Regions from separate parts of the Homo sapiens genome. Here region 2 is linked to region 1. The links come from fine-mapping of genetic effects on gene expression. A gene starts in region 1. The other region holds a variant in brackets. All regions are shown on one strand. Distances are between the middles of the regions.

The links. PIP is the estimated chance that this variant, and not a neighbour inherited with it, causes the effect.
Region 2: its variant is fine-mapped to the expression of SP110 in whole blood (TOPMed, PIP above 0.99).

The regions. Positions count from the first base shown.
Region 1 is chr2:230,217,990-230,222,475 of GRCh38, reverse strand. SP110 (SP110 nuclear body protein) reads left to right here and starts at 2,492. Exons shown (of 19, transcript NM_080424.4): 1 at 2,492-2,602. It also overlaps a transcript of SP140 not described here. RefSeq lists a silencer at 2,380-2,566 and an enhancer at 2,284-2,763.
Region 2 is chr2:230,170,358-230,174,357 of GRCh38, reverse strand. SP110 (SP110 nuclear body protein) reads left to right here. Exons shown (of 19, transcript NM_080424.4): 15 at 1,399-1,514; 16 at 2,184-2,292; 17 at 2,591-2,662; 18 at 3,597-3,737. Among named protein-coding and RNA genes, the nearest start is that of SP110, 48 kb to the left of the region's middle. The variant G/A (reference allele first, on the strand shown) is at 1,591.

The DNA of each region.
Region 1 (4,486 bases):
GAATGCTGGGATTATAGGCACAAGCGACTCTCCAGGCCTAGAAATGGTCTACATCTTGACTGGTGTAGTAACTACATTTGGTAAAATGTACATTACAATGAATAAATTTTATACCTCAATAAAATGGAGCTAAAAAGAATTATGTATAATTTATCTCAGTACATAATCACTAGCATGTGAATTAACAGGTGACGTTTTCCCATTATTACCATGTTCTCAAGCATGCATTTTTTTTTTTTTTTTTTTGAGGCGGGATCTCACTCTGTTGCTCAGGCTGAACTGCTGTGGCGCAGTCTCAGCTCACTGCAACCTCCAGCTCCTGAGTTCAAGCGATTCTCATGCCTCAGCCTCCCGAGTAGCTCGGATTACAGGCATGTGCCACCACGCCCAGCTAATTTTTTTGTGTTTTTAGTAGAGACGGGATTTTGCCATGTTGGCAAGGCTGGTCTTGAATTCCTGGCCTCAAGTGATCTGCCTGCCTCAGCCTCCCAAAGTGCTAGCTAAGCTACAGGCCTGAGCCACTGTGCCCAGCCAAGCATATATGGCTTAGAATAAACATCTTTCATCCTCATTCGCAGCTGTCTTTTTTTCATGTAACAATTTTTGCCTGATTTGACATTGACTTTATTTTCCCACTCCTGCTTTACTTTTGTTTGTTTGTTTTGCATTTGCCTGGTGTATCTCTGAATAGATCTAAAGGAAGAAGTTCTTGCTGCCAGGATCCTCAGATGCCCATGAAGGGGCTTTCCAGGTGATGGGGAGGGGCTTCAGGTAAGTGACATGTGACATTTGCATAAAATAACCTTAATTCCTTTACCACCGCCATCCCCTGCATCACAGCGCTGTATGTTACTGCATGCTGAGGCATCAATGCACCCTCTCCTCAGCTGTTAGCATTGAATTTTTCCTGGCTGTGGCTTCCATGCCTCTGTTTCACCCACAGCCATTACCCGCAAGGCCGGGTCTGCTATTCTGTACATACTAGGGTGGGATATGCTGTTTGTGCCTGCATAGAAGGGCTTGCTCTTATGCAGTTAGCCTTGGTTTCAAAGCTTCTTAAACTTTAGATCCATGTCTCCCATCTTTTATCTGAGGAGTTTGTGGATGTCCTGGTAGGGGAACTTGTGGGTCAAATACATTTGAGAATTATTGATTTAATCAAAGTTACATAGAATTCTTTTTTTTTTTTTTTTTCGAGATGGAGTCTTGCTCTGTCACCCAGGCTGGAGTGCAGTGGTGCGATCTCGGCTCACTGCAACCTCCACCTCCTGGGTTCAAGCAATTCTCCTGCCTCAGCCTCCCAAGTAGCTGGGATTACAGGTTCCCGCCACCACATCTGGCTAATTTTTGTATTTTTAGTAGAGATGGGGTTTCACCATGTTGGCCAGGATGGTCTCAAACTCCTGACCTTGTGATCCACCCATCTCAGCCTCCCAAAGTGCTGGGATTACAGGCGTGAGCCACCGAGCCTGGCCCAAAGTTACACAGATTTCTATAGTGCAGTGGTGCAATCATAGCTCACCGCAGCCTTGAACTCCTGGGCTCAAGCAAGTCTCCAGCCTCAGCCTCCTCACTAACTAGGACTACAAGGTGCATGCCACCACACTCAGTTAATTTTTTATTTTTTTATTTTTTGTAGAGATGGGGTCTCACTATGTTGCCCAGACTGGTCTCAAACTCCTAGGCTCAAGCAATCCTCCCATCTTGGCCTCCTAAAGTCCTGGGATTATAGGCATGAGCCACTGTGCCTGGCCAATAGTTTAGGATTTTTCATAGGCCCCACATGTCAATGTACATTAGGGATCTTTAAAAGGGGCATGAGAAGGGGTGTCCCTGCCAGCCCTTGAGTTACTGCTCTCTGGAATCAGCAGGTCCCAGTTCTGCCTCAGACTCCTGGCTCCCAACTACCTGCCCAGCTCTCAGCCATTTTTCTGCCTGGAGGTCTGCCTGCCTCTGCACAATTCCAGTTCATGTGCAGGTTCCCTTTCATTTCAATTTCTTCCTGTAATAATCTTATCCTGACAAGTTCTAGGCATTTCTGGCACATTCTCTTTGTTTTTTTGTGTGTTGTTAGAGTTTGATAACACACTGGATAAATTCCAGTGAATTCATTCAGTTATGTAAACATCACCACAATCCAGTTTGAGAACATTTTCATCAACCTAAAATGTACAGAATGAGGACAAGTCATGGGAAAATAGATGTGGTTAGGGAAGCATTTGGACGCTGAGTTCCCAGTTCCTATTGCCGCTGGGGCTGTACCCTTATGCCTCCTCCTCCCATACCTCCCTCTCTGGGCTGATCCCAACTGGCAACACGCCCTCCCCCAAACCCCAACTGCCAAGACGTCCTGGGAGCCTCACAAGTGCCCATGAGGAGGTGGAGAGAGGCTGCAGGCACCGACCTGCCTTCAGCTTCCGGCTTGGCAAACTCCGAAAACTTTCACTTTTCTTTTCTCGGAAGCCCGGCCCCTTACTGCGTTTGTCAAAGCACAGACTTCCTGTTTTGCCTGCTAGCATCTCCCTGTAACTCTCCCAATCTTGAGGAGTGATCCCTGTCCCAGCCCCTGGAAAGGGGCAGGAACGACAAACTCAAAGTCCAGGTGAGTTTCTGTCTTTGCTGCTTTATTCTTCGCTCTTGGTGACTGCAGCTCTTAGAGTTAACTTCGCGGCAGCAGCTGCAGGGTGGAGTTCAACTATTTAAACTCTGAGGCTCTCTCAGAGCTCAGACATGTGGTACTTATTAGGAGACTGTTAAAAGGGGGCACATGGAGGGAACACTGACACCTCTTTTTTTCGCCAGAGTCCAGCCTGTTATTGTGAATGGAGCCGAGATTTGCCCTCTACCCTCACCTAAGCTCTGATCCTTCAGTGCCCGCAATAGGCGGCTCATCTGTTATCCATTGTGTAAATGACTAGAGGTACTTGGGAAGCTGGTGGAAAAGAAAAAAATGAGAGTACATTTAATTTCGTCTCTAGTGTATCATGAACTTTTTATATATTTTCTCTAAATACATGATTATTTCCTTGAAATAAATTATTAGAAGTGGAAATTCAAAGGAGCACATGTTTTAGGACATTTGACACTGATTACTAAATCAGCCTTCAGAACATTTGGACCTGTTGACCTTCCCACTCACAGTGTCTGAGATTATTACTATTATTTTCTATCTTGGCCAATTTGATAGACAAATATGTTATCAAATTGTCTTCATTTACACTTTTTTTGGTTGTTTGTTGTTGTTGTTTTCTGAGACGGAGTCTCGCTCTGTCACCCAGGCTGGAGTGCAATGGCACCATCTCAGATCACTGCAACCTCCACCTCCCAGGTTCAAGCGATTCTCCTGCCTCAGCCTCCTGAGTAACTGGGACTACAGATGTGCACCACCACGCCCAGCTAATTTTTGTATTTTTAGTAGAGACAGGGTTTCACCATGTTGGCCAGGCTGGTCTCGAACTCCTGACCTCAGCTGATCCGCCCACCTCAACCTCCCAAAGTGCTGGGATTACAGGCATGAGCCACCATGCCTGGCCTTCTTTATGCTTTCTACTAGCTAGTTAACATGCTTATCGTATTATTCATTGCACATTTGGCTTATTCTTTTATCACTCTCTGTTCATGTATTTTGCTTTTTTATTTTCTAGTTGGATGTTTGTCTTTTGCTTATTCGTTTGCAAAATCTCTTTACATAATAAAAATCTGAACAGTCATATATGAGATGTAGTATCTTGCATAGAAAGAAACAGGGCTTTAGAGTCAGACAAGCTCTGCTTTGCCACTGAATACCTTGGGTGAGTTACTAAACCTCTCTGTGCCTCCCTTTCATCTTTGGGACTCATGACAGATGAAGAATGAGGAAGCTCTAGACTTCCTGTTCTGAGCGCTGCTGTATAATGAATTGTTCTAAAAGGAGCCTCCAAGACCCCTTCCTCTTCTTAGTATATGTTTACTCTGCCTTTCTCTGACTTTGCACTGATCTTTGCACTATCTCCTTCCCCTGTGCATATTGTGGATAGTAGATTTCTCTCCTATCTGTTCTCTATCTTCCAAGACTTCTTTACCACCACAGACTCTCAATGGCATCTTTTCTTGTTTTCCTATGCGATTGCGGATTATTCTTTTCATGAGTATTTTTTTCTGCCAAGTTAAAAAAATTGGGGAATGAGGAGAAAGAGACTAGGGTGCTTAATCTGCCACTGGGATTAAATCCCTGTAAACAGTTGTTAATTACGATTTACTTTTCTGTTCAACACAAAATGAAGTTGGAAAAGTGGAATCCATGTTTGTTCTGTTTGTTAAAAACTGTCAAGTTGATTGAATGTTTTGTTAGTGCTTTTCCTTTTCTTGACAATTTGTCAAGAATGTCATTTGTAAACTTTCTTCCCATTATAACCTATTGATATCTCCTCACAGTCCATAAATGGCCAATCTTTAATACATGCTGCATGGGCATGGGAAAAGGCGCATGTCTGAGACATGAAATGGT
Region 2 (4,000 bases), 48 kb after region 1:
GCGTAAATGGGCTTACCTAAAATCTACAAATGAAGGATGTGTTTCCTTGAACTCAAGAGGCCTGAAGGATGCTGGGAGGTTTATTAGAACACTGTGAGTACTCAGAGGGTCAATAATTATTTTTTGACAGTGTCAGGGATGGAGCATCCCTCAACTGACCAGACAATGGCCAGAAATTGGTGTGGATCCCTGTACTATGCCTGGGGCAGTGGCCCATACTTTTTTGTTTTAGTTTAATCCCACCATGTGGAAACACAAACCCCATCCTTTTCTATGAGTTCTTTGTGAGTAATGTCCTGAGTGTGTCAAATGAATTTGCTGAAAGAAGGGTGTCTTCAGGGTGATGTTACACCTGTACTCCTAGAGAATGTCAGATGCAGTTCAAATCCTGCCTGCAAAGATTGTGTATGGTGGCAGAACTGTCGAGGTACCCCGTGGTAGCCAGATAACGGTCTATTGTGTCCCTTCGGGGGTGAAAGCAACCTGCAGCTGAGATCTGTTGAAATAGGCGCTGAACAGAACACATTAGTCAAATCTATGCCTGCAGAGTATTTACCACTTGCTAAGTGGATGGAGTCAGTAATTTCAATAACATTGGGCCATCACAGGTGGGGTCACAGGATTCAGGTTGTAGTAATTCACCGAGAGGCACCATTCATTCTTTCCAAGCCTAAGAACAGACCAAATTGGGCTGTTAAATGGAGAAACAGTGGGGATAATCACCCTTTCTCTAAATAGATCTTCCATAATGAGTTTCAATCCTTGAAAGCCGTGTTTTAATTCATATTGATCAGTATTAAATATTTTAACAGAGAAGGTCCATAGAGTTCCATTTTGTAAAGCCAATTGTAAGTGCCAAAGGTAACTTAATTTTAATTATTTTAATGTGTTATTTACTGGGTCATAGCATCCATGCCCACTGTGGAACATTTTAGGGCCATGTTATGTTACGACCATGGGGCAGTTAGGCAAGGCACCAGGAACAACAGTTCCCATACTCCTGCACCCAAATGCCAGTTATCATCATTTCTTACTTTGGTCAGTCAGATCTATTAATAGAGGCCTGGTGGGCTCAGCAAATGCGCCCAGAGTGGCCCAGCTCAAAGCACAAGCTTGCCAGCAGGCAGCAGCACAGCTCAAAACGCAGCAGAACCTGTTGGCAAGCCACAGCCAGAGAAGAAAAGTCCTGGTGGCGGCGGTCACCACCCAGACTCTCTGCTTGTTGTGCCATTTGTCTTGCAATTTCCCCCAGGGAGGTGGCATCAGCTCCCCCCATCAAAAATTGGGTTTGGATATCCACTCTGGCACACACAAAAATGATGTGTTCTAGAACCCCACAGGGTCAGCATTCGTGGGTCTCCATGGTCCTAGCGGTGCCCACGTTATCTGCCCTTGCAGCGGAAAAACTCGGATGAATGCGAGGTGTGCTGTCAAGGGGGACAACTTCTCTGCTGCGGTACTTGTCCACGAGTCTTCCATGAGGACTGTCACATCCCCCCTGTGGAAGCCAAGAGGTGAGTGGGATGCAGCCCCGCCTCGGGCACACAGCACTCACCTCCAGATGGAAAGGGCAGGACCTGTGAGCGTCGG[G/A]GACGAGGGTGTGACGCAGAGCAGTCTGGTGCCAGAGACTCTGGGCCTCTCTGGGTCTCTGAGACTGCCAGTGAGCCTCTTGGCCCCACACTGCTTCTGCCCCTGGAAGTGCCCTTTCCTAGTATGCTATTCCCTGGACAGCAGGGACTCCTGTCCAAAAGGAGGAGGGGACGGGAAAAGCCAGCTTATGTTCTGTGCCTGTTGAGGAAAGACAGGAAGCACGGCTTGTCACACATTTCACCATAGTCTCACCTGGCTGATGGAGGCCTGAGGTCCCTGCAGGTGAAAGCCCAGATTCTGACACTCAAGCCTGGCAGGCAGGGTTCCTTTGTGCTCCCAGCAGCTCAGACAGGGAAAAGAGAGCCCACACTTAACAGTGACACCACCTTCCTCAGGCTGCCCGCCTGCCGCTACCACTGATGCGAGGGAAGGGCCAATGCTGGAGACCCCATGTGGGGATCTTGGACACTCTGGGAGGTGTCCCACCCTCATGGCTGAGCCCATCCTTCCTGAGGGAAGACAGTGGCAGCCACAGGAATGGTGGCCATTTCCAGGGGCTTTGCCCTCTGCTCACCTTGTGTCCAACCTCTCAGGATGCTGTGGAGTTGCACCTTCTGCAGGATGAAGAGGTCTTCAGGAAGCCAACAGTGCCATCATGTATCTAAGACCCTGGAGAGGCAGATGCAGCCTCAGGACCAGCTGGTGAGTTGGATGCAAACCCCAAACCTATACTTTTCCCTTCTCACACGAGAAGCACAAACAGGCACAGGGTCAGGGCAATGTACCAAAGGGAGCCTTCAATGTCTCCCTTTAAAGGATGACGATTTAATGCCCAAACTCAGAGTCTAAACAAAATCCCACACACCCTGTGCGCCTTGGGAAGCATGGCTGGAATGCTGACTGGGCTTGGCTGCCCCATCCGTGTGCATGTCTAGACACTCGCCTGGCTTCACTGTTTCTAAGCTGCATTTCACTTTCAAGCCCTCTTCACATTTTACAGAAATGTGAGTTCCTCCTCTTGAAGGCCTACTGTCATCCACAAAGCTCCTTTTTTACGGGCATCCCATTTAATGTAAGTCACATTTTACGGTTCTCTTGCATAAAATGCATTTGGAGAAATTTGGGGGCTGATCTGGCAGGTGCTGCAGTTTGCTCAGGAAGCTGGAGAACAGAAGAGAAGGGCAGCGTGGCAGCAGTGGAGCGGGGCAGCAGGGATTTTGCTGCACACTCTGGAGAGGGACTACCTGGTTCAAACTCCACCCCACTGCTCACGGGCTCTGGGATACCGGGCAAGTTGCTTCTCCTCCTGTGTATCTGTTTCATCTTCTCTTTAGGAAGAATGTCTTTCCTACTAGAGATTAAGAGTCACAGATGCCAGCTGGGCTCAGCGGCTCACGCCTGTAATCCCAGCACTTTGGGAGGCCAAGGCGGGCAGATCACTTGAAGTCAGGAGTTTGAGACCAGCTTGGCCAACATGGCAAAACCCCATCTCTACTAAAAATACAAAATTAGCCAGGCATGGTGGCAGGCACCTCTAATCCCAGCTACTCAGGAGGCTGAGGCAGGAGAATCGCTTGAACCCAGGAAGCAGAGGTTGCGGTGAGCCAAGATCGCACCACTGCACTCCAGCCTGGGTGACAAAGCAAGACTCCATCTCAAAAGAAAAAAAAGAGTCATAGATGCCAAACTGTGTGGGTTCCCATCTCAGCTCTACCACTTTCTTGCTGAGACATCTTGGGTAGGTTCCTTGACCTCTCCATCCCTCGGTTTCCTCATCTATGAAATGGGCATTATTATTTATGGTACCCATAAATGTGGAGATTACATATTCATATACTTGGCTTAGAATTTAGTTTATCTAGTGCCTAGAACAATAGCTGGCTTAAAGAGGTCAAATGGTATTATCATTATGACCCTGGAAATGAAGGCTTGGATTGTATTTAAGTTGGATCCATTCCAGTGATGACAGCTGTGCTAACGTCACCTCTGGTGGCTTTGTCCCCAAGATTCGAGATTACGGTGAGCCCTTTCAGGAAGCAATGTGGTTGGACCTGGTTAAGGAAAGGCTGATTACGGAAATGTACACGGTGGCATGGTTTGTGCGAGACATGCGCCTGATGTTTCGCAACCATAAAACATTTTACAAGGTAAAGAGCATTTCCTGCTTCCTTTTTGCGTCTTTTCTACTTTCCCCTAATTTCTGGGACAGCAGAATTTTGCAAGTATTACACTCAGTTTCAGCCTGGGGAGAGCTCAAACAAGACAAGGATTACAGAAAAAAAACCACCTCGGCATTCCTGGAGGCAAGGAGTGAGTGGCAAAAAGAACAGCAAGCAGGACAGGGGAGGGATCTCTGGAACAGAAGCTGAAAAAAACCATGCTCTGTTCCCAGATCGGCAGCTCGCTCCCA